Homo sapiens: one gene and its partners. The protein of the gene in region 3 purifies or fractionates together with the protein of the main gene of each other region. This does not show direct contact. Each region holds a gene or a part of one and is shown on either strand. Other genes may lie near its edges.

What was found.
Region 1: the proteins of TLK2 (region 3) and MTCL3 purify together in Homo sapiens (affinity purification with mass spectrometry; one large-scale study listed by BioGRID and IntAct). This does not show direct contact.
Region 2: the proteins of TLK2 (region 3) and UCK2 purify together in Homo sapiens (affinity purification with mass spectrometry; one large-scale study listed by BioGRID and IntAct). This does not show direct contact.
Region 4: the proteins of TLK2 (region 3) and CSTA purify together in Homo sapiens (affinity purification with mass spectrometry, with the first as the bait; one large-scale study listed by BioGRID). This does not show direct contact.
Region 5: the proteins of TLK2 (region 3) and KCNB2 purify together in Homo sapiens (affinity purification with mass spectrometry; one large-scale study listed by BioGRID and IntAct). This does not show direct contact.
Region 6: the proteins of TLK2 (region 3) and COBLL1 purify together in Homo sapiens (affinity purification with mass spectrometry, with the first as the bait; one large-scale study listed by BioGRID). This does not show direct contact.
Region 7: the proteins of TLK2 (region 3) and PCCB purify together in Homo sapiens (affinity purification with mass spectrometry; one large-scale study listed by BioGRID and IntAct). This does not show direct contact.

What each region holds. Positions count from the first base shown.
Region 1 is NC_000006.12:127,481,132-127,485,459, reverse strand, and holds part of MTCL3 (microtubule cross-linking factor 3 precursor), read left to right. Parts: intron 1-2,475; coding exon 2,476-2,547; intron 2,548-4,328.
Region 2 is NC_000001.11:165,886,243-165,890,570, forward strand, and holds part of UCK2 (uridine-cytidine kinase 2), read left to right. Parts: intron 1-3,961; coding exon 3,962-4,121; intron 4,122-4,328. UniProt on the Homo sapiens protein: Phosphorylates uridine and cytidine to uridine monophosphate and cytidine monophosphate. Does not phosphorylate deoxyribonucleosides or purine ribonucleosides. Can use ATP or GTP as a phosphate donor.
Region 3 is NC_000017.11:62,572,004-62,576,331, reverse strand, and holds part of TLK2 (serine/threonine-protein kinase tousled-like 2), read right to left. Parts: intron 3,118-4,328; coding exon 2,965-3,117; intron 1,988-2,964; coding exon of another isoform or gene 1,922-1,987; intron 1-1,921. UniProt on the Homo sapiens protein: Serine/threonine-protein kinase involved in the process of chromatin assembly and probably also DNA replication, transcription, repair, and chromosome segregation. Phosphorylates the chromatin assembly factors ASF1A and ASF1B.
Region 4 is NC_000003.12:122,338,335-122,342,662, reverse strand, and holds the end of CSTA (cystatin-A), read right to left. Parts: intron 1,225-4,328; coding exon 1,096-1,224; 3' UTR 694-1,095; downstream 1-693. UniProt on the Homo sapiens protein: This is an intracellular thiol proteinase inhibitor. Has an important role in desmosome-mediated cell-cell adhesion in the lower levels of the epidermis.
Region 5 is NC_000008.11:72,543,331-72,547,658, forward strand, and holds part of KCNB2 (potassium voltage-gated channel subfamily B member 2), read left to right. Parts: intron 1-4,328. UniProt on the Homo sapiens protein: Voltage-gated potassium channel that mediates transmembrane potassium transport in excitable membranes, primarily in the brain and smooth muscle cells.
Region 6 is NC_000002.12:164,679,167-164,682,562, reverse strand, and holds the end of COBLL1 (cordon-bleu protein-like 1), read left to right. Parts: 3' UTR 1-2,375; downstream 2,376-3,396.
Region 7 is NC_000003.12:136,256,830-136,261,157, forward strand, and holds part of PCCB (propionyl-CoA carboxylase beta chain, mitochondrial isoform 1 precursor), read left to right. Parts: intron 1-2,346; coding exon of another isoform or gene 2,347-2,406; intron 2,407-3,649; coding exon 3,650-3,706; intron 3,707-4,328. UniProt on the Homo sapiens protein: This is one of the 2 subunits of the biotin-dependent propionyl-CoA carboxylase (PCC), a mitochondrial enzyme involved in the catabolism of odd chain fatty acids, branched-chain amino acids isoleucine, threonine, methionine, and valine and other metabolites.

The DNA of each region.
Region 1 (4,328 bases), on a different chromosome or scaffold from region 3:
GACAATAATTTGACCTGAATAAGATAAAATTCAATCTTTATTCAATGTCCTTCAAGATCTGACTTATGCCACCAGCAAATCTCATGTCACTCCTCTCCTCTCACTCTGTAACACCCATATGGAATTTCTGTCCCAGAAATGGTTTTTCTATGTGGAATGCCTTTTTTTTTCCCTTTTCCTCCTCTTCATCTTCCATTGGCTAACTACTCATGCACCAGATTCTAGATAAGATGCTACTCATTTTGGAAATTATCCCTAGCTCCCCACACCATCTCTAGCCCTAGATTAGATAAAGTCTTTCTCCTTAGTGATCTAATAGCTAACAGTTAGATATGAGAAAGACTTGGGTCAAGGTCTGAAGTTATTGTTACCAACTAGTAACTTTAGACATTTGCAAACTTTAGCTTATTAAATCATAGATCACTGGGCCTCATCCTCAGAGTTTCTGAATCAGTGGTTCTGGGATGAATCTCAAGAATTTGCTTTTCCAACAGCTTTCTGGGTGACACTGATGATGCTGTTCTGAGGAGCACAGAGATAACTGATGCTTTTGATAATTTATTCATCTACTTCTGTTACCCCTGTAAACTTTAGTTTCAGCACCTGCAAAGTGAGGCTAAAAGGAGTGTTTAAAAATTAGCTGAGATAATGTATGTGAAGGGGTTGACATGAATTAGGGCTCAATGACAGTTAATATTGTTCTTGTATTATCATTGCTTTCATAACACTGTGTTGAATTCCAGACTGAACAGATCATGCCAAGTAAGCTGAGAACCCCCAAAAGAGCAAAGATCACATTGGTTTCATTATTATTGTGTCACAGGTATGTTATGAAGTGCATTGGTAGTCACTAAATAAACACATAATTGAGTGAATTCAAATACAAGCATTCAATAAGTATTTAGTGAAACAAATTCAACGCTTCTTGTAGGCAGCCCCTACCTAGAATGTTCCAGGTTTCTTAGTTTAGCTCACTTTATTCTTGGTATTCTTGGGACTGTTTTGTTGATTACTTCCTAAATTACTTTTTGGTTATGGTGAGTCAGTCCCCAAGCTTTCCTTTCTAAGAAGATTATACAAGCAACAGAAAGAACTTCTTCCTGTAAAGAACTAGAAATGAATAACCACGTGGGCTATTCATTTGTCTGTGTAGTTTCAGTTTCATACTGAATGAAAGCAGTTGCACCAAAGTATTCCCCTGCCTTCTGTGCTTGAACGTATGCCTTTACTTAACAGTGGATATGGGTTAGAAATTAACATGTGAAGAATTTAATTTTCATTTCTTTGCGAATTTATGAAGACTCCTGTTTGGAAAAGGCTTCCCTATTTTTACTGTCAGTCTATACCCCTGTCCTTCTCTTTGACCTCAGAACCTCGATTTGGTATTCATATATCATTAGTTCAGCAAGTATTTTTTTCACCACCTGCCATGTGGCAAGCACTATTTTTATGGTGGTGATGCCACACTAAATCAAAACCCCTGCTTCACAGAACCTAAAGCATAGCATTTATCAATTTGCACTGTAATTGTTTGCTTCTCTGTCTCCTCCCCTGCTAAGTTTCAGCTTCCTGATGGTAGATGCAGTATCTAATCAAACTTTGAGTCTCCCCCTCAATGTGTAGTATATGGTAGACAGTCATACATACGGATAATTATTGTTTACATACAGAGACCCTTCTTCTTATATTGGTGTGAGAAATGGAACTGAGCACCAGAGATCATATTACGCTTGTCCTTGAAACAGTTTGGCACTAGCTGTGTATTCTTTGACTTCCAAAGTGTTAGTTTGAATTTTAATTAGGATCAGCCAGTAAAATGTGGGAGATTTTACATAAGAATCCAGATTCCCAGCTTCTCTTGTAAAAGCCCACATTCCTGTATCACACAATGAGCTGAAGCTGTGGCTGGTCCACCTGTTTCTTGAGATGGGGCATGCCTTCTCCATTTCACTACAACCCCTACCATGCCCTATCATTTTGCACGTGTCGAGGAGGAGCAAGGGGGTGATGTGTGGTGAGGGGAGAATGAAGTGCTTCCGATTCTACATAAATTCACTGAAAGTGTGTGTTCATAAGCTTATAGCAACCTAACTCCCAACATTGGAAATAATAACTTACTTTTTTTCCTTCAGTGATGTGGAATGCTAACAAGCATTTGTTTACATTTGAACTATATATCATATTGAGTCAACAATCAATTTTGTCTGTTGTTTTTCTGCATTTTCACAGTAGGTTTCCTGTATTTCTCAAATTAAATAATTGCCAGCTACATTCTACTGTGATGTGTATCCTAGTCCAAAGTAAAAATATATCTAAATCTATCTGGTTTAGGATTTTTTTTCCTCCTTTTATGATTATTGAACTAACTCTTTTTATTTGTCTTGGTTTTGTCGTTTGAGACTAGAATACTTAAAAACATAAAATTGAATTAAAATTATAGTTTATCCAACTAAATATATTCATGCTTTGTTTCAGTTATCCTTAAAAAGAAGAGGAAGCAAAGATTTGCCAAAATCTGAAAAAAAGGCTCAACAGACTCCCACAGAGGTATGTGGAAATAAAATTTCAACTAGTACACCAAGTACCTCTAAGTGTATATAATCACAAACTACATTTATAAATAGATATAATGGCCAGATAAACTTATGCAAAACAAAGTCAAATTTGCATATCAATTATGTAGCTGTAGATACAGGTAGTATAAATCAGAATATTTACTTATAAAGCCAACCATAACATCCCTATTATAATTGCTTTACATTGTAAGCACACAGAAAAATGTCATTCGTATTTTATACGCTGCTATATTTGAGAACTATACTCATGATGCTAATCTTGTCCTTTTATAATTAATAAGGTCAATAGAAAGGCTGTTCCTATAGTGTCAGGAGAAAGTAAAGAAAGGAATGTTGCAGAGGGAAGTCAGAAAGGAGAGAAAGGCTCATTATATCTTTAGAGAGCCCTGGAATGAAGTAATTCTCCATACCAGTGATTGGAGAAGCAAAAGAAAGGAGACAAAAGAATAAAAATGAAAGTTGAAAGATGTACTCAACATGGGTTTGTTAAAAACCTTAGAAGCACAGCCACAGTAAAGACTAGCTTTGCTTTCAAGGTAAAAAGAGGTGCCAATGGTTGTAATGAAGAAGATTTTAAAATGGAAGAGGAAACATTTGGGATAAAAATGACACTATTGTTAAGGAAGGGGATCCCAATCCAGACCCCAAGAGAGGGTTCTCGGATCTCGTGCAAGAAAAAATTCAGGGCGAGCCCATAGAGTAAAGTGAAAGCAAGTTTATTAGGAAAGTAAAGGAATAAAAGAATGGCTACTCCATAAGCAGAGCAGCCCTGAGGGCTGCTGGTTACCCATTTTATGGTTATTTCTTGATATGCTAAACAAGGGGTGGATTATTCATGCCTCCCCTTTTTAGACCATATAGAGTAACTTCCTGATGTTGTCATGGCATTTGTAAACTGTCATGGCACTGGTGGGATTGTAGCAGTGAAGACGACCAGAGGTCATTCCCGGTTTTGGTGAGTTTTAGCTGGCTTTTTTACTGGAATGCGTTTCATCAGCAAGGTCTTTATGACCTGTATCTTGTGCCAACCTCTTATCTCATCCTGTGACTCAGAATCCTTAACCATCTGGGAATGCAGCCCAGTGGGTTTCAGCCTCATTTTACCCAGCTCCTATTCAAGATGTAGTTGTTCTGGGTCACACGCCTCTGACATTATAACTCTCCAAAAGCACTTGGCTAGATATTAACCTTTAAACTATGTCAGTTGGAATCTATGGTACTGTAGTATACTTTTGTGATTACAAGGTTTTTTTCACATTAGATAGATAATTTAACTAAAGTGATTTTAAATATTCAAAATTTGAAAAAGTTGATCTCAGACATTTTTTAAAGCATAACATATTAACTATATATTATTTTCCTTTTTCCTCTCTGTACCTGCTCTGTTCCTGCTCTGTTTTCTCCTGGTACTTGCACCAGAACATGTATGGACCTCAGCATTTTTAGAATCCCAGAGAGTCTCACAGCCAAGACCATGATATCATTTTTTGTACCTTTCTCTCTGTTCCCTTAGTAAGTCCAAATATACTCTGTCACTACAGCTTTTCCACTCTGTCTTTGCTGTCACTTTATCCAACTCACTCTAAATATTTTGTTGTGAATCATTTCACGTGTTGCCATGAATCTTCTTTCCTACCTTGTTTATGGAGTAGACGCTGTATCTACATTTGTCCTATTCTTACACTTCCTGTGTTAAAAGTTTATTTATTCTTTTCAACCATAGTCTCTGATGCAGGAATTCTTAACTGTTTA
Region 2 (4,328 bases), on a different chromosome or scaffold from region 3:
TGCCTTCTCAAACCCTGGTTATTGGTGGATTATTTCTCTTTCTTTTCTTTTTTTCTCTCTTATTTTTTTAGAGATAGAGTCTTGCTCTGTTGCCCAGGCTGGAGTGCAGTGGCATGATCATGGCTCACTGCAGCCTTGATCTCCTGGGCTCAAGCAGTCCTCCTGCCTTAGCCTGCCACACGTAGCTGGGACTACAGGCACAAACACCATGCCTAGATAATTTCTGAATTTGTGTAGAGGTGGGGTCTCACAGTGTTGCCCACCCTGGGCTTGAACTCCTGGGCTCAAGTGATCCTCCTGCCCTAGCTTCTCAAGTCACTGGGATTATAGGTGCACGCCACTGTGCCCAGCTGAATTATTCTTAAGGAACAAGATGACACCTCAGAGCTCCATTTCATCCTTTTGAAGAGAGGGGCAGGATTAGGCAAAAGGAGAACACAGAGATGATAGTGAAAGAGATACAGAGGTGAGTGTTAAGTAAGCGAAAGAGCATTTATTCAGGGCAGAGTAGAGTCTCTTTGTGGGACTCCTCCTTCCCTCCCTGCCTTCTTCCCTACCAGGTAAAAATTCAAACCTACACAACAATAGAGAGGATGATATAACCAAACCCTATGTACATGTCAGCCAGATTCAACAGTTATCCGGATTTTTTAGGGCCCATTTGTAATATGGCCCAGGAGGAAGAAAATGCCTGAACAATCTAGATTAACCTAGAGGCAGGTGTTTCTTTGCTTATTTGTGCAATTTTATTTATCTCCTTCCTGATAAAGGGCTTCTTCTGCCTTGGGACTTCTTACTATCTAAGGTTGAGGTAAAGAGCCAGGACTCTATGAAACCACATTACTTAACTTGGTTTCCTCATCCATGTAGGAGAGCACATGTGGCTTCTAAAGGTGGTCATAATGGAGTGTTTGGCACAGGGACTGCTGCCTAATAAGTAATCATTTACACTGTTAGCAGTGGTAGTGTGTTTGTGGAAGGGAAGGGTCACCAGCCAGGTCCTTGAAAACACAGGACTGAAACATGCAGCGGGGGATCAACACAATTAGTCATACTGTATCATTGATCAAGGGTTGGGATGAGCGCTGATTTTCTAGAATTGCACCTACTGTATGTTCATTATCCCATTTTACTGGCCATTGTACAGGTTCTGTCCTAGATTGTGCTGGGTTAAGGGAAACAGTAGTTTATCTGCAAAATTAGGTAGTGTAACTTTTTAATATGCTTTTTTGATGGTGATGGGATTGCTATTTACATTAAAAACATTTTATGGGTTTTAAATATAAATAAAAATATCACAATTTGAATAACTAGATAATATACATTTGGCTTCGTGAATCACTTTTTTGTTTTTGTTCTTTGGAATTCTAGGAGGAATTCTATCTACTAATAAAGGCTGCAGACTTTATCTTCCTACAACCTTAGGACGTAAGAAACGTCCTAAGATAGATGCCTGGGAGGAAAAGGAAATTGAGGGCCTACAGGTGTTTAAAAACCTATAGTTTATAATTGCTTAGAGCCTTTGATTTCCCCCCCCACCCATCCATCTGTAGCACCCAGAGAGCCTTGGTTTTGTAACATTTTCACTTTTGAATCTAGTTTATCATATGAAAGTTTTACTGTTCTGTGATATTTTGGGGCATGGGAGGATCTGTGGTCCCAAAGTCCAGAGTAGTTTTAAATGTTTTTCTGTGTTAATATGCAAAAGTATCATGAAGGCGAAATAAATTGTTTGCAAATAATTGAGTCAAAATATTATTGTTCCTCCAAAGATCCTTACTTAGTCGTGTGTCACAGCTTGTATAACAGGACGTATTTTGCAGAGCTGTTTAGTTTGCACTGACTTGTGCAACAGGAATGGCCAGTTTTCCTTACGCTCAGGGCAATCAAACACAACTTTATAAGAATTGTAACTTTAAAAGATTTCATATTTTTGTTGTTGTTGTTGTTAAAATCGTTGATGAAATAAATTCAATAGTAAAACTTCTAAGATTTGAGTCATCAAACCTCTAAATATGCTGTTTTTCTGTTCTGTTCTGTTCTGTTCTTTTCTCTTTTTTCTTTTTTTTTGATGCAGTCTCACTCTGTTGCCCAGGTTGGAGTACATGGCACGATCTCAGCTGACTGCAACCTTTGTGTCTTGGGTTCAGGCGATTTTCCTGGCTCAGCCTCCCGAGTAGCTGGGACTACAGGCATGTGCCACCATGCCTGGCTAATTTTTGTATTTTTAGTAGAGGCAGGGTTTCACCATGTTGGCCAGGCTAGTCTCAAACTGACTTCAGGTGATCCACCCACCTTGGCCTCTTAAACTGTGGGATTATAGGTGTGAGCTACCCTGCCTGGCCTAAATATGCTGTTTTTCCTTTCTATTTATTCGGTTGACCAGTTTCTTTCTTCTTCTTTTTTTTTTTTTTTTTTTTTTTTGAGATGGGGTCTCACTGTGTTGCCCAGGCTGGTCTCGAATTCCTGACCTCAAGCAATCCACCCCCTTCAGCCTCCCAAAGTTATGGGATTACAGGCATGGGCCACCGTGCCCGGCAGGTCAATCAGTTTCATTAGAAGACTTGGGTTATGTCTCCTACAGCTTGTGTAATACAGACATTTTTATTTTTACATTAGTCTTTGTATGAAATGAAAAAAGAAATCAGTTATTTGATAAATACAATCCTTCACTATCTCATTCTATTGAATGCACTTGTTTCATAATGTTCCTTTTACGAAGAGTATATTGAAGGGAAAAAGGGGCAGACACATGTATTACTATCTGTTTTTCTTTTTTTTAAATTTTAGGATACATGTATTACTAACAACAACACACAAAGCATGTAGGTTTGAGTTCATTTGGAGTTGGCTTCTCCACTCTTGTTTGGGATACTCCTAAGTTGTTTTAGATGTTGGTGGTGTTTGTGTTCCTTGTCACCCTGTCTGTGGTGACACACGTTTGTGAAAAGGCCACCTGGTTTACTGTAGATGTGAAGTCATGGCTGTGGACTGGAGCAAAAGTAACCAACAGAAGTAGGATTAACGCTGTGAGCATAGCCTTCTTGCTAACTAGCTGAGCTCTCTGGCCATGGTTTTTGGTTCCGTTGATATAAAGAGATGTGCAGGGGCTGAGTGGCATTCCATGGATGTGCAGTCACCTTGTGATTCCAAGGCCCTGTAGCCCCTCAGCACATCATCACCATGCCTTCATTCTACTTTCTGCTGCCTTTTTTGTCTGTCTATACCAGGGCACAAGCAGACAGGATCAGGTAGCCCTACCTTTATCAGTGGCTCTGGGAAAGGCTCTTCTGGAGGAGGAGGTGGTGTGTGCTGCCCTCCTTCCCCCACCATCACTGCAAGTACCTGACAGTAGTAAGCTGTGTTAAGGGAAGGGAGGAAGGAACTTTGGGGATCCTAAGACTTCTCTGTCACAGGCGTGTAAGGCGGACTCTTCTCCGTTAGCCTTTTTTTTTTTTTTTTTTTAATTTAACTTTTAAGTTCAGGGGTTTGTTACATAGGTAAACTTGTGTCACAGAGGTTTGTTATACAGATTATTTCATCACCCAGGTATTAAGCCTAGTACCCATTAGTTATTTTTCCTTATCCTCTGCTTCCTCCCACCCGCCACCTCCAGCAGGCCCCAGTGTGTGTTGTTCCCCTCCCTGTGTCCATGCATTCTCATCATTTAGCTCCCACTTACAAGTGGGAACATGCAGTATTTGGTTTTCTGTTCCTGTGTTAGTTTGCTAAGGATAGTGTCCTCTAGCTCCATCCATGTTCCCACATGAGACGTGATCTTATTCTTTTTATGGCTGCATCCCTTAGCCCTTTAACTCATCATGCACGATAGCTGCCTTTGGATTCTTCCTTCCAGAGCCCCTTCTTGGAAGGTGTGCATCAGCTTGGTTACTCTCGGGACTTCCTCTGTACCACACGTGCCCTTTCTCTTATTCCTGGGTGCTCTCTTCTCTCCTCACAGTCTTCCGTGTGTGCTAAGATCGTGCAGCTCCTGGGGCAGAATGAGGTGGACTATCGCCAGAAGCAGGTGGTCATCCTGAGCCAGGATAGCTTCTACCGTGTCCTTACCTCGGAGCAGAAGGCCAAAGCCCTGAAGGGCCAGTTCAACTTTGACCACCCGGGTGAGTCGGGCATTGAAGGGGGTATGTATCTGTATTGGTGTGTTGGGGGGAATAGTTTTATTTTGCTCATGAGGAAGTTGCTTAACCTCTCGGAATCTTGTTTCTATCTAGAACGTAGGGACTTGATAACTACCTTGCAGTGTTATTGTGGGGCTTATGTGAAAGAAGGAATTTTCAAATGCTTCAAGTAGTGCTTGGCTCATTAAA
Region 3 (4,328 bases):
TCTTGTTAATACTTAAACCTTGATACTGTAATAACAAAGAGAAAGATATAGCAGCAAATTAGAGTCTAGGATTTGGAGTCTGAGGACTAGGGTTCAAAGCACTACTAAGCTACTGGCCATGTGACCTTGCGCAAGCAAATTTAACCTCTTTAACTCAGTTTCCTGAAATGCAGCAAGTGATAATACCTATCTAAGAAAGAGTGACTATTAAATGACAACATATAAAGAATATTGAAAATGCTATTTAAATCAACTCTCAAAGGGCTGACTTGATGGGTAGTCATGTGTTTCATGTTCCAACTACTCCAACAGCATCCTTACATCTCAAGAATGAACAAGTGGCCAGGCTTGGTGGCTCACTGTAATCCCAGTACTCTGGGAAGCTGAGCGGGAAGGACTTGGAGCCAGGAGTTTGAGACCAGCCTGGGCAACAAAGCAACACTCTGTCTCTGTGAAAAAAAGAAGAAAGAAGCTGGGCATGGTGGCACATGCCTGTAGTCCCAGCTACTCAGGAGGCTGAGATGGAAGGATTGCTTGAGCCCAGAAGGTTGAGGCTATAGTGAGCTATAATCATGTCACTGCACTCCAGCCCAAGCAACAGAGCAAGGCTCTGTCTCAAGAAAGAAAAGAAAAGAAAAGAAAGAGAGAGAGAGAGAAAGACAGAAAGAAAGAAAATAAAAGAAAAAAAGATGAACAAGTGAGAATTATTTTTTCTTCCATCTCTACCTTCTTCGCATTCTAGAAGCATATAGATATTTAATATTTTTAGATATCACTGTTTAGATATATTCTAAATAGCAGAAGAAAGGGGAAATATCTATCCTATCAACCAGAACAGAGCCTTTGAGGTCTAACTCAAGAAAAAATAGAAAGAAGAAGAAACTCACCCACTAGGGCTATCTCTTTACAGATGCAGAAATACCTGTATCTATTACTCCATTCCACACCAGCGAAAAACAGAAAAATTAAAAATGATGGCTAAGAATTCTCTGTCTGAAACAGGTTCGGGGCCAAGAAAGGATAATATGGCTCACTCCAAGACCCCAGAGGCCTACTTCTGGCTTCTGGTCAAAGTAAGAGCCAAGTCACAGATACTCTAATTAAAAACTGGACTGAAAGTCTTCCAGATTGGATTTTACACAGGACACCAGATAGCAATTGCTTACACATTACTAGCCTAGATTGCATTCTAATTATTCTTCTGTGGCAAAGAAACAACCTATGCTTTCTTTATCACTCCTAAGCCAATGGTTTTGTGCATTAGCATTAAATAATTTTCAAATAATACTAGAGGGAAAGTCCCTTCACAAAATACACACAGGAGTCATGAAAGAAAACATTGGTCAGATTAATTAGCCTGGACAATCTTTCAAATTTGAGCCCCTACTTGGACTTGCTGAAAGGAAAATACTTTATATTTAAGACTCAATACTCTTCCCCTCTTCTCATTCTCATTATTGCACTTGACTAGTCTTTAAAATCAAGGGAAAACAAGACTCTAGTTTTGTAACATTTGGGCTGGGTGCAGTAGCTCGCACCTGTAATCCCAGCACTTTGGGAGGCCGAGGAGGGTGGATCATTTGAGGTCAGGAGTTCAAGACCAGCCTGGCCAACATGGAGAAACTCCATCTCTACTAAAAATACAAAAACTAGCTGGGCATGGTGGTGCACGCCTGTAGTCCCAGCTACTCAGGAGGCTGAGGCAGGAGAAACGCTTGAACCCAGAAGACAGGTTTCAGTGAGCCGAGATAGCACCACTGCACTCTGGCCTGGGCGACGGAGTGAGACTTCGTCTCAAAAAAAAAAAACAACAACAACAAAATTTGGAGTTATATGAATGAAGATGTTTTCCAAGTTCATTATGCACATTTTTATCGCTATACTTAATGTAATTATTAGTTTATTCGTCTGTTCATCTCACCTAAGTAAACTGTGGGCTCCTAAGGCTGGGGCTGTATCCTTTAGCTCTGTATTCCCAGAAGAGGGCCTAGCATAAAATAAGCATTTAACATAAACTTACTAAACGAACATCAAGGAAGAGACTTCCCAAAACATCAGATATGTATGGGGTGAGGATTGGTGTTAAGCCATCTTTCTCACTAGAATGAAAGAAGATGCACTTCTAGGATGCCACAGACTTTTAACAATAATATAATACAAGTATTATTATACCTGAAGTGGATTATGTGTTGTTTTTGTGAACTAATATGAAAACATAAAGCAAATGACATATTAGTTGATAAGTTATATATCTTTTATCTGCAGCTATCTTTGGACTTGAAACTTACTTTCAGTTAAACAGAAAGGAAGAGAAGAATGGAGAAGGCAGGCATTTGTGCTTAGAATTTTCTACTCCTCCTATATATGGTAGCTATGTAAATATTGTTGAGTGACAGAGAAAAAGATGACTGTACTGCAGTTTAAGATACTGGTGTTTTCCTTAGATTCCCAGAACAGGAAACAATTCTGATGAGATCAAGTTGTGGCTTATTGGGACAATGTCCTTTTCTAACATAACAGCTTTCTGGGGGGCTTATCCTAAGTTTGTGACTATTAACTAAGTGCTCTTTTGACCAGTAAAGAGCATTCTTCAGTCTGAAATAACAGCCAGGTAACTCCCATAAGATGATACTAGTGTACCACACCCTGCAGCCACATGTAAGCAATAATATCATTTCAGTACAATGACATCTTATTTGTTAACCAGGAGTGGCCAAAAGTCATGATGTCAAGTGACATTACTTTTCCCTCTCATTCAAAATGCCCTAAAGAAAGAGCAGGTTTAAGAAAATCAATTAATTTTATATGGCATTTATATGAGTTGAGCAAATCCATTAATGTAACTGAAAAGAAGGTTTAAACCTGAGTGACCTCAAGAATTTAAAACTATTGCCGGTGACAATCAACATTTGTATTTGGGGGCAGGGTGTGGTGTCTCAGCGTTCACGTCAATAAAGAACATACGTTTCATTTTCAGCTCCATTGGTCTTGCTTTTCCGCTGTTTCTGCTCATTGGTTGCAGGAGGGGCCTGACCCATGGCAGGAGGTTTCCGCTTTGCTAACATTTTCCGTTGTCTTTCTATCTCTTCCCTCTGTGAATTTATCCTTTCCTGTTGCCTAGAGATATAAAAGACGTTGTACAAAGAAAGAAAGTCAAAAGTTTTACCACAGCTATGGAACACACACAATTTGTCACTTGTGTATCCAATTTCAGAAAAAATAAGCCCCTTTAAGTCAAGTAGAGATTTGATTTTAACTTCAGATTGGAAGGGCCAAATAATTGGTGATAGATGTTTTCTGGGAATGAGTCTGTGCTTTAAGACACTAGTTATTACTATTTTCAGAGTGGACAGGAAGGAACATATCAAATTTCTATTGTGACCTTATTTTCTGACTCAGAAGGAACAATTTTCTGATTCCTTTTTAACAGCTAAGGAAACAATTCTCTGATCTGAACCCATTAAAAGTAAATCGTATTTTAAAAGTTGTAAAAAGTTCCAAGTTCTATTTTATTTTTCTTTGGATGAAAGCTTCTCAGTTTTACGTAAAAAGATACCAAGTTTGTAGGATGCTAAAGAAAGTAAACAAGATTTTCTTTTTAGACCTATCCTTTATTCTAGTCTAAGGGAGCCATTACTACTCTACACGTCAACCCCGCCCACTGATACAGTGACACCTAGATTAAGTTTTTAAAAGAAAAATACATTTGGAGAAAGCACAACGAAGTCTTCCAACTAGTAAGAACTCCTTAGGGAATAGTATACAAAATGAATTAGTATAAAACATATTTTACAACTGCAGTTAATCTAACACCATTACCATTAGAGTATTTCCTAATAAGATGTCACATTTTTCTGTGATTAACTAGTTTACAAATTAGGGACCAATAAAAACTCCATTGTAAAAAAAAAAAACACTTTCTCTCATGTATCCTACCACCTAACAGATATTAAGGTTTACAGACTTGGTATATAAAAACATACAAAATTGGAGATTAACCATCTAACAGGTTAGTCTTTAAGTCACCCACTATAATTGACAATCAAATGATAGCTCCCTTCTCCTTCTTCCTCTACTGTGCTTTTCCACACATTCTCTTTTGTGGAACCAACCTTCATTTTTGTGGAATAATAAATCTTTTTTTTTTTTTTTTTTGAGACAGAGCCTCACTCTGTTGCCCAGGCTGGGATGCAGTGGCACGATCTCAGCTCTCAGCTCACTGCAAGCTCTGTCTCCCAAGTTCAAGTGATTCTCGTGCCTCAGCCTCCCTAATAGCTGGGATTACAGGTGTGCGCCACCATGCCCAGTTAATTTTTGTATTGTTTTAG
Region 4 (4,328 bases), on a different chromosome or scaffold from region 3:
AGGTGCATACCACCATGCCCAGCTAATTTCTAATTTCTTTTTGTAGAGACATGGTCTCGCTATGTTGCCCAGGTTTGTCTTAAATTCCTGTCCTCAAGCAATCCTGCTGCCTTGGCCTACCAAAGTGCTGGGATTACAGGCGTGAGCCACTGCGACCTGGCAATTTCCTGATTTTGATGGTTGTATTTCAGTTTTGCAGGAGAATATCCTTGTTTGTAGGAAATGCACACTGAAGTATTTGTTGATGATGGGGCATCATGGTAAGTAACTTAGTCTCAAATGTCCAGGAAAAAAAGTGGGTTTTTTTTTTTTGCAACTTTTCTCTATGTTTAAGTTTGTTTCAGAATAAAAATATAGACTGGGCAAGGTGGCTCACACCTGTAATCCCAGCACTTTGGGAAGCCAAGGCGAGCAGATCACCTAGGGTCAGGAGTTCGAAACCAGCCTGGCCAACATGGCAAAACCCTGTCTCTACTAAAAATACAAAAATTAGCTAGGCGCAGTGGTAGGTGCCTGTAATCCCAGCTACTTGGGAGGCTGAGATGGGAGAATCGCTTAAACCTGGGAGGTGGAGGTTGCAGTGAGCCGAGATCACACCATTGCACTCTAGCCTGGGTGACAGAACGAGACTCTGTCTCAAAAAAAAAAAAAAAAAAAAAGTATATATATACACACACACACACACACACACACTTTGTAAAATACTTGATTTAATTTTGAAGTATGAGGGTAGAGATGGAATGTTGGGTTATCAGCAGCCACAGGGAACAAGGAGGCTGGTGAATTGATAGTCCACGATCCAGCCTGCCTATGGTGGGGGTGAGGGTGGTACTATCCTTTAGCCAGTTGCATTAGGCTTGACTAGTTTTTATAAGATTTCCAATTGCCATCAATTTATATGGAGTTTATACTCTAAAGCAATAACACTGATTTTGAGAAAGAAAAGGTAATTTCTGCTTAATACAATAAATGAGAAATAATTGAAGAAATAATTTCTTTGGAAAAGAATGCTTCTTTATTGATGGTTATATTTATCAGCAAGGATCATGACTCAGTAGCCAGTTGAAGGAATCAGAACACTTTGGGTACATGCTGCTAAAAGCCCGTCAGCTCGTCATCCTTGTTTTTGTCAACCTGGTATCCAGTAAGTACCAAGTCCTCATTTTGTCCGGGAAGACTTTTGAATACTTTCAAGTGCATATATTTATTATCACCTGCTCGTACCTGAAAAATATTAAAGAAAGAGAAAGCAAAAGGAGATTCATTCAAATGGGTCTACATCAAGTGAGAGAGCCACAGGTCTACAAAGACTTCTGTCCAAAAAGCTGCTGAGGAACAGCATTGCTAGACCTAGTCCACCATTCTTAGACTCTTTGTATTCATAAATCCACCACCTTATTTTAGGAGAAAAAGAGCAGACTAGGCTGGGTGCCGTGGCTCCCACCTGTAATCCTAGCACTTTGGGAGGCTGAGGCAGGGGGATCACGAGGTCAGGAGTTCAAGACAAGCCTGGCCAGCATGGTGAAATCCCGTCTCTACTAAAAATACAAAAAATTAGCCGGGCATGGTGGTGCATGCCTGTAATCCCAGCTACTCTAGAGGCTGAGGCAGGAGAATCACTTGAACCCAGGAGGAGAAGGTTGCAGTGAGCCGAGATCATGCCACTGTACTCCAGCCTGGGTGATAGAGCAAGAGTTTGTCTTAAAAAAAAAAAAAAATTGTAGACTAATGGCATGGCAAGAGGCATAGGTCCTAGGTTTATTTTGTTATTTTTTTTAGTATAATCTGGGCACAAAGGACAGCATTTTATTTTCAAAGATGCATGGAGCAAGAAAACAAGTGATAGCCTATATTTTTGGTGATACTGTTTTCTGACTCTCAACTTGGGACACTTTGTTTGCCATACAGTCTGATAAGGGAGAAGAAAATCAGAATTGCCCTAGAAAATTTGGGATGCAGGGTTCCCATACCTATATCAGAACCTACTTTATAAACACCCACTGGTAGGATTGAGCAGAGCCCAGGGGGCGGACACCCTCCCTTCTAAAGTGAAGGGGCCAGCCGGGCACTGTGGCTCACGCCTATAATCCCAGCACTTTGGGAGGCCAAGGTGGGTGGATCACCTGAGGTCAGGAGTTTGAGACAAACCTGGCCAACATGGTGAAATCTGGTCTCTACTAAAAATACAAAATTAGCTGGGTGTGGTGGTGCACATCTGTAATCCCAGCTACTTGGGAGGCTGAAGCAGGAGAATCGCTTGAATCCGGGAGGTGGAGGTCGCAGAGAGCCGAGATTGTGCCACTGCACTCCAGCCTGAGTGACAGAGTGAAACTCCGTCTCAAAAAAGAAAAGAAAAAAAAAAGCTAAGGGGTTTTACTAGGAAGTCATTGGTAGGAAGGTTGAAGCAGAAGCAGTAGTTTGGACATGAATCTGAGACCTGGAAAATTATGGTAAGAATTTTTACTTTGGTTCTTGCTGGAGACAATAAATGCTTTGTCTTATACAAATATTTATTGTGCTTCTGATGTCACTTCCTATCCTAATTTTAACAAATGCCATATATCAAATGTTTACTGTGAGCCAGACACTATGATGAACATTTTATATAAATGATTATATTAACCTATATTATAGGCCTGAAGAAAAGTGGAGCAATGAAATTTTTACAGACGTGGAAGCAGAGTAGGAGAGATTAAGTGATTTTCCATAAATCTCTCAGCTAGTCAGTGGCACAGCCAATATTCAAACCCAGATCTGTTAGCCTCTAGCATCTACATTCTTTTCACTCTACAATGTAACATTTTTGGGGGGTACTGATCGGGGAATGAGGCCTGGCTCACAGTGCAGTGGTGCGATCGCAGCTCACTGCAACCTCAAACTCCTCGGCTCAAGTGATCCTCCTACCTCAGCTTCCCAAGTAGCTAGGACTACTGGTGTGCATCACCATGCCTAGGTAATTAAAACATTTTCTTTGTAGAGGCAGGGTCTTGCTATGTTGCCCAGAATGATCTCAAACTCCTGGCTTCAAGCTATCCTCCCACCTTGGCCTCCCAAAGTGTTCGGATTACAGGTATAAGCCACCACACCAGGCCAGTGTAACCTTGTAAAAGCTCTTATTTTGTGCTTTATATTAGAGGCAGCACAGCCAGTAGTTAAGCTCAGTCTATCTGGGTTCAAATCCTGACTCTGCTCTTGTAGTTGTGTGATCTTTTTAGTTTCTTCACCACCCTGGAACTCAGTTTTTTCGTTGGTAACCCAAGAGAAGTGATTGTACTTATCTCATAGATTTGTTGTGAGGATTAAATGAGATAAGCCCTGTTCTTAGAATAGTGCATAGTGAATTATAAGTGCTCAATAAATTTCCAGCTTATTTATTCCTCACAACACGCTGCGAAGTAGATTATTACCCTCATTGTGCAGATAAGGGAATGAAGGCTCAGAGAGGAGGAGGAGCTTCCCATAGAACAAATTGAACAAGGGTTCAAACCCAGGACACTCTGACACCTAAGCTTGTGGTCCTTCCATTCTACCACCTACCTCTTGATAGGTACTTGAAATACATAGAGAAGGTCACATCACTGGCAAGACCTTAAATCTAGAGTGCCTCAGAGCAAAGGGATCAACAGCCAGACTACCAGGAAGTAAAAGGGAACTGGGATCGGTGGCTGAGATCCAGTAGGAAAAGTTTGATAGCAGAAGGAAGAAAAGATGAGAGAGAGAGAGGAGACTGATTAAGAGAGGGCAAAAGGGTGGTCAAGGGAACAAATTTTCAAGCAGAAATTTTCAAGATAGTTATCTGATGAACTGTTGAAGAAACATGTGAGCTGGTAATATGTGAAATTTATGCATTTGAATTAATCATAAATTATTAAATATGTTAATGTTGATGGAATGTTTCCTATCTTTGCACATAATCATTTTTAACTGGAAAACTTTCTTTTCCAGCCATGAAGAAAGCAGATTGAGAATGGAGGAAATGGTGCCATTGTTTTCTGAGGATACAGCAGGGTCCTCTTTCACATGTGTCTCCCCGGGACCTGGTCGTTACTAGGAGCTCACATTTGGCAGAACAGGGCTGATCTGTGTACATAGCTCTGTACTGAAACTTTCTTATGCTGAGCTGACTAGCTCCACTTACTTCACTTACTTTTTTTTTTTTTTTTGCTGAAAAAATCTTTTAAAATGTTTATATTTTAATAGAAATATTTGTTAAAGAGAAATAAGCCACACTGTGCCCTGGTCAAATAGTGAAGTAAAGATTAAGTAAATATACTTGAATATTTGTTTTTATTTTTAAAATCAGCATTATCATCTTCTTAATATATAAG
Region 5 (4,328 bases), on a different chromosome or scaffold from region 3:
GCTACTTAAAATGCATAAGTTTGGATAAGAAGATAAGTTCAGATAAGATTAGAAGATAAACTTGGATAAGATGATAATATTCAATTGAATATTGGTAACACTTTTATATATTTGGCACTTTGAAATAAGAGCAAAATAAATATATTCATTGAGTGTGACAGCAGCAATTGCAAACAGATGTGGGTGTACTGGATTAATGAATCAATTAACAGGAGCAGCATGATAGCTGGTGACATAACTTCCCAAAATCGTGAGCAAATCTTGGTGATAGCACCTTCTATCATTCCTAGAAAATTCCTGTGTAAAAACATGCTATGAACAATAGGACTAGGGTCTAGTCACAGATAACAGTAAGCAAGTTTTTTATTTACATATATGTCTGGTGAGATGTGTAAAAGTTATGGAGGAAGCAGGATTTCCTGCATTCTTGGGCCTTGCCCTTCAAACACTTGACAACTTTAGGAAACTCACTCAAAAGGATCATATTCCTCTCATTCAGGAGCACTGATTATGGCTATATTCTCCCATTGAAGAAAGCCAATCCAATTCTACTGTGTGGGTGGCTATTTTGAAAAAGCTGAGCACTCTATGTTTTTAGTATGAAGGTAAGTTTAGCGGCTGACTAAATACAAATAAATAGCAACAAAATCAAACTATGTAGTTTGCTAAACATTAGGGACATCCTATTAGTGGGCACAATTTGATGATTTAATTATCACTGTGAAGAGTATCATTTTCTACGTGGGATAGTCAGACAGGACTTCACAGATGAAGTGACATCTAAGTTCATTTTTAAAAGATGAGTAAGCATTCCCCAAGTGGAAAAGGAGGTAGATGGAGAGCATTCTAGGCAGAAGGAACAGCATTTGCAAAGCAATGTCATAAAAAAGGGCTTGGCTGGTGACTGAAGGTCAGCATTGGCAGTTGTGGGGAAGTGATGGGAGACGAGGCTGAAGAAGGTTGAGGATTAGATGTGAAAGGTGTTTATGCCATCCTACATCATTTGGATTTTATCCTGAAAGGCAGGTTGTTGGGGGAGAGAGGGTCAATGGAAAATTTTTAAAAAGTGGTGTAATCCACTTTATTTTTGGCAACAATCTCTGAGCTAATGTGAATAGGATCAACTTTAACAGGAGAAAAGATTGATACTTTGGAGACTAGTTAGGAGTCTTTCAAGGAATACAACTAAGATAATGTCTAAGACTTGCTTTAAACAGGAATGGCGAAGAAGGGGAGGAGGATTTGAATTCCTGACGGCAAACACTTGCAATCTAAGGGTCTCCAAGTCTTCCACCTCCCAATACAGGTCATAATAGTAGGTATTACCCTCCTTTTTTGCTTTTCAATGGTGATTGTATTAGTTGAGGTAACTTTAACTTCTAAACTTCCATATTTCAGTGGTTAATAGAGTGGACATTTAATTTTTGCTTATATGAGAGTCCAATGTATGCATTCAGTGCAGTGATTTGGGGACCCAAATCTTGCTCTTGATACTAGAAACATGAAGCTCTCTGCATCCAGCTGACATTGTGGAAGAGAATGAACATAGAGAAGGCACACCCAAGTAGTGACACACCTGGCTTCCATTCACATTCTGTTGATGAGATAGTCACATTGCTCTGTCAGTATGCAAAGAGGGCTGGAGTATGCAACCTCTGGGTGGGAGGCTACTTTCCAGTCATATTTCTGTATCATGGAAAGGGAAGCATAGATTTTGCTAAACAAAAATTCTACTATATTCTGCTCTCTGGCTACAGATAGGAAAACCTCAACTCCAGAAAACAACCTGAATCTCACCTAGTCACTGTATCCATCTCAAAGTCCAGGTTCTATGGCTGATGCTGAGTGCCCGCCACCATTTAGTCTGGATATGGCCCCTCATTGTCTAGAAACTTTTGTACTAAAAGGCAAGTTATCAGCCTCCAATATACAGGCATACCTCATTTTTATGGTGCTTTGTTTTATTGTGCTTAACAGATGCTGCGATTTTCACAAATTGAAGGTTTGTGGCAACCCTGCATCACGCAAGTCTGTCAGTGCCGTTTTTCCAACAGTGTGCTCACTTCTTGTCTCTGTGTCACATTTTGGTAATTCTCCCAATATTTCAAATGTTATTGTTATATAGGTTATGCTGATCCATGATCAGTGATATTTGGGGCACCACGAGTTGTGCCCATATAAGATGGTAAACTTAATGGATGAATGTTGTGTGGGTCCCAACTTCTCCACTGACTGGCTATTCCCACATCTCTCTCCCTCTGCTTGGGCCTCCCTGTTCCCTGAGACACAACAATATTGAAAATAGGCCAATTAATAACCCTACAATGACCTTTAAGTATCCAAGTGAAAGGAAGAATCACATGTCTGTCACTTTAAATCAAAAGCTAGAAAGGATTAAGCTTAGTGAGGAAGGTATATTGAAAGCCAAGATAGGCTGAGAGTTAGTCCTCTTGTTCCAGTTAGCCAAGTTGTGAATGCAAAGGAAAAGTTATTGAAGGAAATTAAAAATGTTACTCCAATGAATACATGAATGATAATAAAGGAAAAAGAGTCTGATTGCTGATATGGAGAAAGTTTTAGTGGTCTGGATAGATCAAATTAGTCACAACATTCCCTTCAACCAAAGCCTAATCCAGAACAAGACCTTAACTCTCTTCAATTCCATGAAGGCTGAGAGAAGTGAGTTTTTCTGTGAGTTCTTGGATATTGGTAAAGGCCCCCTGTTCTGGCAATAGGGCACATTCCTTCTTTAGACCCTGGTTTGCTATCTTAGAAGAAATTCTTTGTTCTTTGTTCTCTGTTCTTCTGTTTCTTCAAACAGAAGAAAAGTTCAAAGCTAGCAGAGGTTGGTTCACAGGTTTAAAAAAAAATAAGCCATCTCCGTGATACAAAAGTGCAAGGTGGGCCGGGCGCAGTGGCTCACGCCTGTAATCCCAACACTTTGGGAGGCCGAGGCAGGTGGATCACAAGGTCAGGAGTTCAAGACCAGCCCGGCCAACTTGATGAAACCCCGTGTCTACTAAAAAAATACAAAAAAATTAGCCAGGCATGGTGGCAGGTGCCTGTAATCCCAGCTACTTGGGAGGCTGAGGCAGAGAATTGCTTGAACCTGAGAGGTGGAGGTTGCAGTGAGCCGAGATTGCACCACTGCACTCCAGCCTGGGTGGCAGAGCAAGACTCTGTGTCAAAAAAAAAAAAAAAGTGCAAGGTGAAGAAACAAGTGTTAAATATGGAAGCTGCAGCAAGTTACCCACAATATTTAGCTAAGATCATTGATGAAGGTGGCTACAATTAACAATAGATTTTTAAAATTTCTTTAGAGACAGGGTCTCACTCTGTCACCCAGTCTAGAGTGTAGTGGCATGATCACAGCTCACTGCAGCCTTGAACTCCTGGGCTCATGGGATCCTCCCCCTTCAGCCTTCCAAGTACTTGGGACTACAGGCATGCACCACAACACCTGGATAATTTTTTTATTGAAAATTTCTTTAATTAAAAAAAGACATGGTCTCACTGTGTTACCCACAACAGATTTTTAATGGAGATTAAACAGGCTTCTGTTGAAAGGTGACGCCATTTAGGCCTTTCCATAGCTAGAGAGAAGAAGTCAATGCCTGGCTTCAAAGCTTCAAAGGACAGGCTTACTCTCTTGGTAGGGGCTAATCTAGCTGGTGACCTTAAGTTGAATTCATTGCTTACTTTCTATTCTGAGAATCCTAGGGTCCTTAAGAATGATGCTAAATTTACTCTGCCTATGCTTTAGAAATGGAACAATGAAGCCTGAATGAACAATGCATTTGTTTACAGCATGGTTTACTGATATTTTAAGCCCACCATTAGAACCTACTGCTTATGAAAAAATTCTTTTCAAAATATTACTGCTTTTTGACAATGTTTCCCATCACCCAAGAGCTCTGAGGGAGATGTACATGGAGATTAATGTTTTCATGCCTGCTAACACAGTATCCACTCTGCAGCTCATGGATCAAGGAATAATTTTGACTTTCAAGCCTATTATTTCATAAATACCTTTTATAAGGCTATACCTGCCATATATAGTGATTCCTCTGATAGATCTGGACAAAGTTAATTAAAAACCTTCTGGAAAGGATTCACCATTCTAGATGCCATTAAGAACGTTTGTGATTGATGGGAGGAAGTCAAAATATCAACATTAACAGGAATTTGGCAGAAGTTGATTCTAACCTCCATGGATGACTTTGAGGGATTTAAAACTTCATTGAAGAAAATAACTGCACATATGGTGGAGAGAAGGAGAATTAGAAGTGGAGTCAGAAGATATACATGAATTGCTGTGACCTCATAAT
Region 6 (3,396 bases), on a different chromosome or scaffold from region 3:
TGGCCACTAGGCACTGGCAACAGCATACACACTCTGTCATCTTATCCAAGTCCTTGAAATGAGACCAATCTTTGTCCTGAGACTTAGTTACTTATAGGTGCTTAAAACCCAAAGCGTCCCAATTGATACAATTATGTATGTGTCTAATTCCAGTTTACTTTGTACCCACTACCAGTAGAGAAAATAAGTATCAAAGAACTAAGAATCAAACTCATCATTTTTAAAATCTACTGATTTTGATAACTGACTTGAAAGAAAAGAACTTGCAATTAGAGGTCATAGTGAAGATTTCCAGGGTCAAAGTGATTTCTGAGGTTTTAGATGTAAAAATATCTCCTATTTATTTGCTATTTCAGAGTTGACAACAAGATTTTTATTTGATCCACATATTTAAAAGGTGTGCAAAGATTGCTACTTTACAAAGGTCACAGAAGCAGAGGAGTCTCAGAGTCCCACATCCAATTACTAATTTGTTCTTCCCCATGACTAAATGTAGCAAATGATGAAGAAACTGGTGCTAGATTTCAAGGGATACCAGAATAGGAAGTTATTTGTTCTGAATCTTCAGTTGGTTTTCCTTTTCTCTTAAATGTTACCACTTTCCTGCAAATTTCCATCCTTAATATGTTAGACTGTTCATATAGATACATTGTGTTTACAACAAGGAAAAAATGCCACCATGTGCTCAGAACTTTTTTGACAGGTATTTTGAGAAGAGTTGTGGAACATTCTGGTAATTTGTAGAGATCTGTTGGCATCTCTGCTTCACAAACTGGAAAAAATCATTTGTAAGTCTTGCTAATTACTTTTCTTGGAGAAGAAAAAAAATGCTACAGTTGCAAACAAATGTATAGTTTTCAAAAAGAAGCAACTTTTTTGCTCCCCAGTTTATTCTTAGTTTCCAGCCCACGCCTTGCGATAGCGATAGGCATAGTGATGGCCTCAATTCTTTCTCTCTTGCATCCATACCTTTTGCTGTGATAGCAGTGATGGCCTCAGTTCTTTCCCTCTCTTGCATCCGTACCTTTTGCTGTGTGACTTTGCAGCTCCTCTCATTAAAGAGGCAGAGCCCCCTCTCCCACCCATAGGAGCAGGTTTTGAGAGTAACAGAATGAAGTGAAAATGACACTGTGCCAGTTCTAAGACCAGCCCTCAAAGGTTCATGTGTTTCTGCTTGCTTTCACTGTATTTGAAATGTTGCTGTGAGAAAGACATCTCTGAAACAGCTGAATGGTCCTAAGAAAAGGATGAGAGATGCAGGGAGCAGAGCTCCCAACTGAGGCCAGCCTAGATCACCTAAGAGCCAGGCCCCCAGTTTACTCTGATGTGTAAGCAATAAATGCTTACCCCAGCAATACCACCAAGGTTTGTGGTTGGTTTATATACAGCATTAATGTGGCAATAGGTGCAATACACCCTGTTAAACAAACCATACACATATGACTCTAACCCTAATCATAAATTGATTCAGTCTGTTCAGTTCCACAACGCTGTTTCCTCCAGAATCTCACAGATGACTTACTAAATCCAACACAAATACACCTCAGACTTTCTGTCTAGCTCCCAACCAGTTAAAAGCAATTCTAAATATTTTTTTTCTTAGTCGTAGTGCAAAAGTATATTCTCTCCCTTTCTCTATAGTTTTCTCTCATTTTGTCTTCAGACCTAGAAGCATGAGAGCCCAGCTGTCAAAGTCATCTAGACCCCCTTCAGAAGGTCATTAAATTTGTCTATTTCACAGGATTGCAAGATAAAATACAGAATGCCCAGTTAAATTTGAACTTCGGATAAACAACAAATTTTTTTTTAGTATAAGCATATCCCATACAATATTTGGGATATACTTATATTTTTATATTGTTTATCTGACGTTCAAGCTAACTAGGCATCCTGTATTTTTCTTAGCTAAATCTGGCAACTGTGCTATTTCATTGAAAACCTGAAAGTGTACAAAGAAGGAAGAAGCAGAATCTGCCATATGAGTAATAGAAGTGAGCAGGCCCAGGACTCCCTAAGTCAAGAAACCAAGAGGCGTCATTACGGAAAAGAGTAACTCACCCTGTGTGCTCCTTGGTAGTTCTCCCTCAGCGATGCCCCCATGTTATGAATGGGGAAAAGTTCACTGAAGGGTTCATAGTGAAGAAACTTTTTGGATGATTTCTGTTGGTGGGTTTTGGATACCTTCAAGGGATCAGAAAATAATATACTTAGGAAATTTTGGTAATGTCATCATTACTCTCTACATTATTATTATGACGGTTACAATTGTTAAATCTAGGTGGTGGGTATGTGGGTTATATTGTACATGATTTTTAACTTGTCTGCATGTTTGAAATTATAATAAAGTCAATAAATAAATTATTGAGACACTCCTGTTACAGTGACCGATTGCACTCTATTCATATGGATAAAGACATTTAATTTGTGGCCATTTGTTCTCCTTCCACCCATTAAGAATGTTAGTCAAGTCAGGATAGATGATTGGAGGCAAGTAGGAATTTGGCAAAAGCATCTCACTATTAGCAAAGTTAATTAAGGGTGTTATGGTTCAGTTTTAACTAAAAAACACCATACACTGCAAGATCTGATGGAGCACAGTATTATTATTATTATTATTATTATTTATATTTATATTTTAAGTTCTGGGATACATGTGCAGAACATGCAGGTTTGTTACATCAGTATACATGTGCCATGGTAGTTTGCTGCACCCATCAACCCATCGTCTACATTAGATATTTCTCTTAATGATATCCCTCCTCTAGCCCCCGCCCCCACCCCCCGAGAGGCCCAGTGTATGATGTTCCCTTCCCTGTGTCCATGTGTTCTCATTGTTCAGCTCCCATTTATGCGGTGTTTGGTTTTCTGTTCTTGGAACACGGCATTATTTTTAAGAGGGACGAGAGAAATAGGGAAAATGAAATTTAAATACCAGTTCTCTACCATTTACTCTGCTACATGTCCCTTGAGGTAGATTTTTATCACATTTTACTCATGAAGTTCAGAGCACCCTAGGGTGGTGCTGGGGTTGAAGACATATTTGATACCATGGCCCCATTTTTTTCTGCTATACTCTGCTGCCTTATTCCAATTGTAACTGTGTACTTGAACAATCTTCAAAAAGTTTTTTTTTCCTTTGCAATGAGTACCTCATAAATTACGTTTCTAATCTTTGTAACCTTATCTCAGTTGCCTAAACCGGAGAAAAATCATAATGAAAGTGACCAGTATTTCTCCAAGACCACTTATTCTGCCATTTTGAAACCTGATGGATGGCTGGTAATTTGTACGAGGTGTTGCACCACATCCCCTATAAATATGGGACACCTCCTAGAATTTTACTAGGCAGGGTGCTTTAGAGAAGTATGGCCTTCTTGAGAAGTCTAGAATCAAAGT
Region 7 (4,328 bases), on a different chromosome or scaffold from region 3:
GGGCACTAGCCTTGTACAAAGGTATCCCAAGAACCAGGAATTTATTCCAAGTGAATGAGATTCCTCTTAGCTGGGTTGGGTGTGTGCCTGTAGGGCATCTGTGTCCTGGGCAGTGTATGTGGACTAGAGAGAGTGCAGTGGGTGCAGCCTCGCAAAGGGGACTTGACTCTCAGAACCAGAGTCCCCCTGAGCTTTGGGCTTTCATGAATATGTTCAGAAAATTTTATCAGGGTGCATCAAGACAGATACAGTTTGTTCACACACATAGCCAAAGCTATCAATATGTTATTTTACACGCAAAAGGGAATGAAGGTTGTTAATCAGCTGGCCTTGCAATAGGGAGAGTAGCCTGATTTATCCAGGTGGGCCCAATATAATCACAGGGTCCTTAAAAGTGGAAGAGGGAGGTAGAAGAGGAGCTTATAAGGATGTGATATGAGAAGGACATGATCTGCAGTACCTGGCTTTGAAGATGGGAGAAGGGGACCATCAGCAAAGGAGTGCCCATGGTCTCTAGGAGCTGGTAAAGGCAAGAAAACACATTTTCCCCTGGAGCCTCCAGAAGGGAGCACAGTCCTGCCAACCTTAATTTTAGCCCAGTCAATCCTGTGTAGCGCTTCTAAATTATAGAACTATAAGATAATACATTTGTGTTGTTTCAAGGCACTGAATTTATATTAATTTGTTATAGCGGTAATAGAAAACTAACACAGAATATGTTGTGTACTATTTTGGATTTGACTTTTTTCTCTCCAGAGGTGGAAATATGTATATAATTTAAAATGCTTAGGTCTTTTTACAGACCTAAAGTTTGATATTAAAATTGGCTAGGCGTGGTGGCTCATGCCTGTAGTCCCAGTACTTTGGGAGGCTGAGATGGGTGGATCACCTGAGGTCAGGAGTTTGAGACCAGCTGGCCAACATGGCGAAACTCCATCTCTACTAAAAACACAAAAATTAGCTGGGTGTTGTGGGTGCCTGTAATCCCAGCTACTTGGGAGGCTGAGGCAGGAGAATCGCTTGAACCTGGGAGGCGGAGGTTGCAGTGAGCCGAGTTTGCGCCACTGCACTCGAGCCTGGGTGGCAGAGTGAGACTCCATCTCAAACAAAAAAATAATAAAATAGTTATACTTGGTTAATTTAAAATCTGTCGTAGTTAGTATGCATTTACCAATTAAATTACCTTTGAAATGTTTTAAAACTGTTATAAATTGGTCTACCAAATGCCGAAATAGAAGGAATCACATTTGTTTTGTGCAATTTATGAGAGCTGAGAAAAACTTGTACAGAAGGAACCATTGAAAAGAGAGATAGAACAAAGATGTTTTCTGGACATGATGTTCACTCACCACTATTAAGCAGATGGAAGAATTCACTGAATTGATACTTTTGACCACCTCTTATGCTCATGTGGTAGGGTGGGAGTGAGGAGAAGGTGGAGATGACTGAGACAAGAGTTCCCACCCTGAAGAAGCGAATCATTTTATAGGCAGAATGGCACAGAACGGATGTAACTACAGAGCACATGGAGTGAGAGGTTCCAGGCAAATGCTGTAGACCCAAGACAAGGGAAAATCACATCCAGGGTTGAGGAAAGCTTTAGGAACAATGGGGCAATTGAGACAGGCCCTGAAGGATACTGAGGGTAGGGAGTGATGAGCTAGTGTTTTTTAATAGTGATCTCCAAGATGTTAATATCTTAGGTGCTTTTTCTGGGGAGCTTCTGTTCTTCTGGGGAGCCTCCTCAGTCCCTTGCCTGATAATTGGCTGTTGGTGTATTCTGAGGGGGAGAGAAAAAAAGGGGCCAGCACTCATTCAGTGTATAGGCTCCTAATCTTGCATGTTTTCAGCCTCACCTTTTCCTCTTTTAGGCTAGCGATTGTGAGTTTAGAACCCTTCTGGTTAATTTCCTTTAGAGAACAAACATTCTCTGTCCTCTCAAGGTGAAGGAGAGGCCCTGTGGGGTCTGACTGCTTCTAACAGAGACTTCTGTTAGTCTCTGTTTTCAGCCTCCTTCTCACCTCCACTTTCCATGGTTCCTGGGTTGTCTTCTCCTTGATTACCCCCACTGCAGGTGTGTAAGCTTCCATTCTCTCCCTCTAAATCAGGTATTTTCTTGTGCTTTCAGTTCCCCCCAAATTTGTTTAATCCTTCCTATGCTATTGTCTCCTTGTTCTTATTCTCACAGCTGATTCTGTTCTTAATTCCTAACTGTCTTTTTGAGGGGGTTTTAGGAGAGGTTATGCCCACAATAAGCCCTTTACATCTGAACATAATGAAGATCCATAAGCAGAAGAAGCAGTGAGAGCTCTGATTCTTGTTTTTTAACCTTTCTTTTTAAAACAGCAAATAATAGGCTGGGCACAGTGGCTCCCGCTTGTCATCTCAGCACTTTGGGAGGCCGAGGTGGGTAGATCACTTGAGGCCAGGAGTTTGAAACTGGCCTAGCCAACATGGCAAAACTGTCTCTAATAAAAATACAAAAATTAGCTGGGCCTGGTGGCACGTGCCTGTAATCCCAGCTACTCGGGAGGCTGAGGCAGGAGAATCACTTGAACCTGGGAGGCGGAGGATACAGTGAGCCAAGATTACGCCACTGCACTCCAGCCTGGGTGACAGAGCAAGACTTGGTCTCAAAATGATAAGTAAAATAAAACAGTAAATATTTCTTAAAAACAGAAGTGCTTGACTGTTTGATATCCATAGAATCTGATATTAGAGTTAATTCTGTGTGATAGGTTTTCCTTCAGAACTGCAAATCATTTCTTTTTTTTCCTTTCAAATCATTTTTGTAGAGCAAAGACTAGCTCTTTTGCTCTTGACAATTCATGAACTTCCTTTAAGATATTTTATTCTATGGAATAATCTATAAATCAGACTTCTTTTCTAATTTTTTAAACTTCTGAAAATGCTTTAAAAACTATATGTATGTATTTTTTTAAATACAGAGTCTCGCTCTGTCGCCCAGGCTGGAGTGCACTGGAGCAATCTCTGCCCACTGCAGCCTCCGCCTCTTGGATTCAAGTGATTCTCCTGCCTCAGCCTCCCGAGTAGCTGGGATTACAGGCACACACCACCACGCCCAGCTAATTTTTATATTTTAGTAGAGATGGGGTTTCACCATGTTGGCCAGGGTGGTCTGGAACTCTTGACCTCAAGTGATCCTCCTGCCTTGGCCTCTCAAAGTCTTGGGATTACAGGTGCGAGCCACCATGCCCGGGCAACTTTTTTTGTTTTGTTTTGTTTTGTTTTGTTTTGTTTTGAGACAGGGTCTTGCTCTGTTGCATAGGCTGGAATACAGTGGTGCTGTCTCAACTCACTGAAGCCTCTGTCTCCAGGGCTCAAGCAATCCTCCTGCCTCAGCCTCCCGAGTAGCTGGGATTCCAGGCATGTGCCACCATGCGCAGCTAACTTTTTTCTATATTTTTTGCAGATACGGGCTTCTGCCATGTCGCCCAGGCTGGTCTCAGACTCCTGGACTCAAGCCATCCACCTGCCTTGGCCTCCCAAAGTGTTGGGATTACAGGCATGAGCCACCACGCCTGGCCTAAAAACTTTTATCTGTGAATTTTCTATTTCTTCCTCCCACTGGGTTTTCATCTCTAGCCAGTCACTATATTTGACTTGCTGATTTGTATTTTCTTTTTAGGATTTTACAGTTTTTGGAGGCAGTCTGTCAGGAGCACATGCCCAAAAGATCTGCAAAGTAAGTGTTTAATACTCAAATTCAATCCATTGCTTTCCTCAGTTACATAGTGCTTATTGAGTATCTTTGGGGTACAAGACACTGAGCTAGGTACTTGGGGTAGGGCAGAGGTATGCAAGATGTGCTACCAACCCGAAGGGGTGCATAACAATTTTCGTACCATGGATCTCTTCCATGGGCTGGCAAAGCCTGAACCCTCCTGTTTTTACATGCCTAAAATAAAATTTGTAGGATTTTAAAGGATTAAAAATGTTTTTAAAAACCACATTTAGAATATACGTGCTCCCTTGTTAATGCATTTAATAACAAGATTTAGCAGTAGATCTAGTAACTACCGTAATTTCAAAGTAGTCAAAGGTGAAATATTTCAGGGTATCTGCAACAACTTTAATAGGACGTAAAAATATCTGTGGCTTCTAATAATGGCAAATCACAGATATTTCTAATACTGAGGCTCATTGCCTATATCAATAATGAAGAGAAATGTTAACGATCAGCTAGCGTTAGTAAAGATAAAGATGTAAATTTTTTCCTGTTCAAGTTCATGGACTCCCGTTCACAGATCTCTTGGGGTTCTGAGGATTTCAAGTGAAGAACCTCTTGTCTAGGTGGAAGGGCCAGG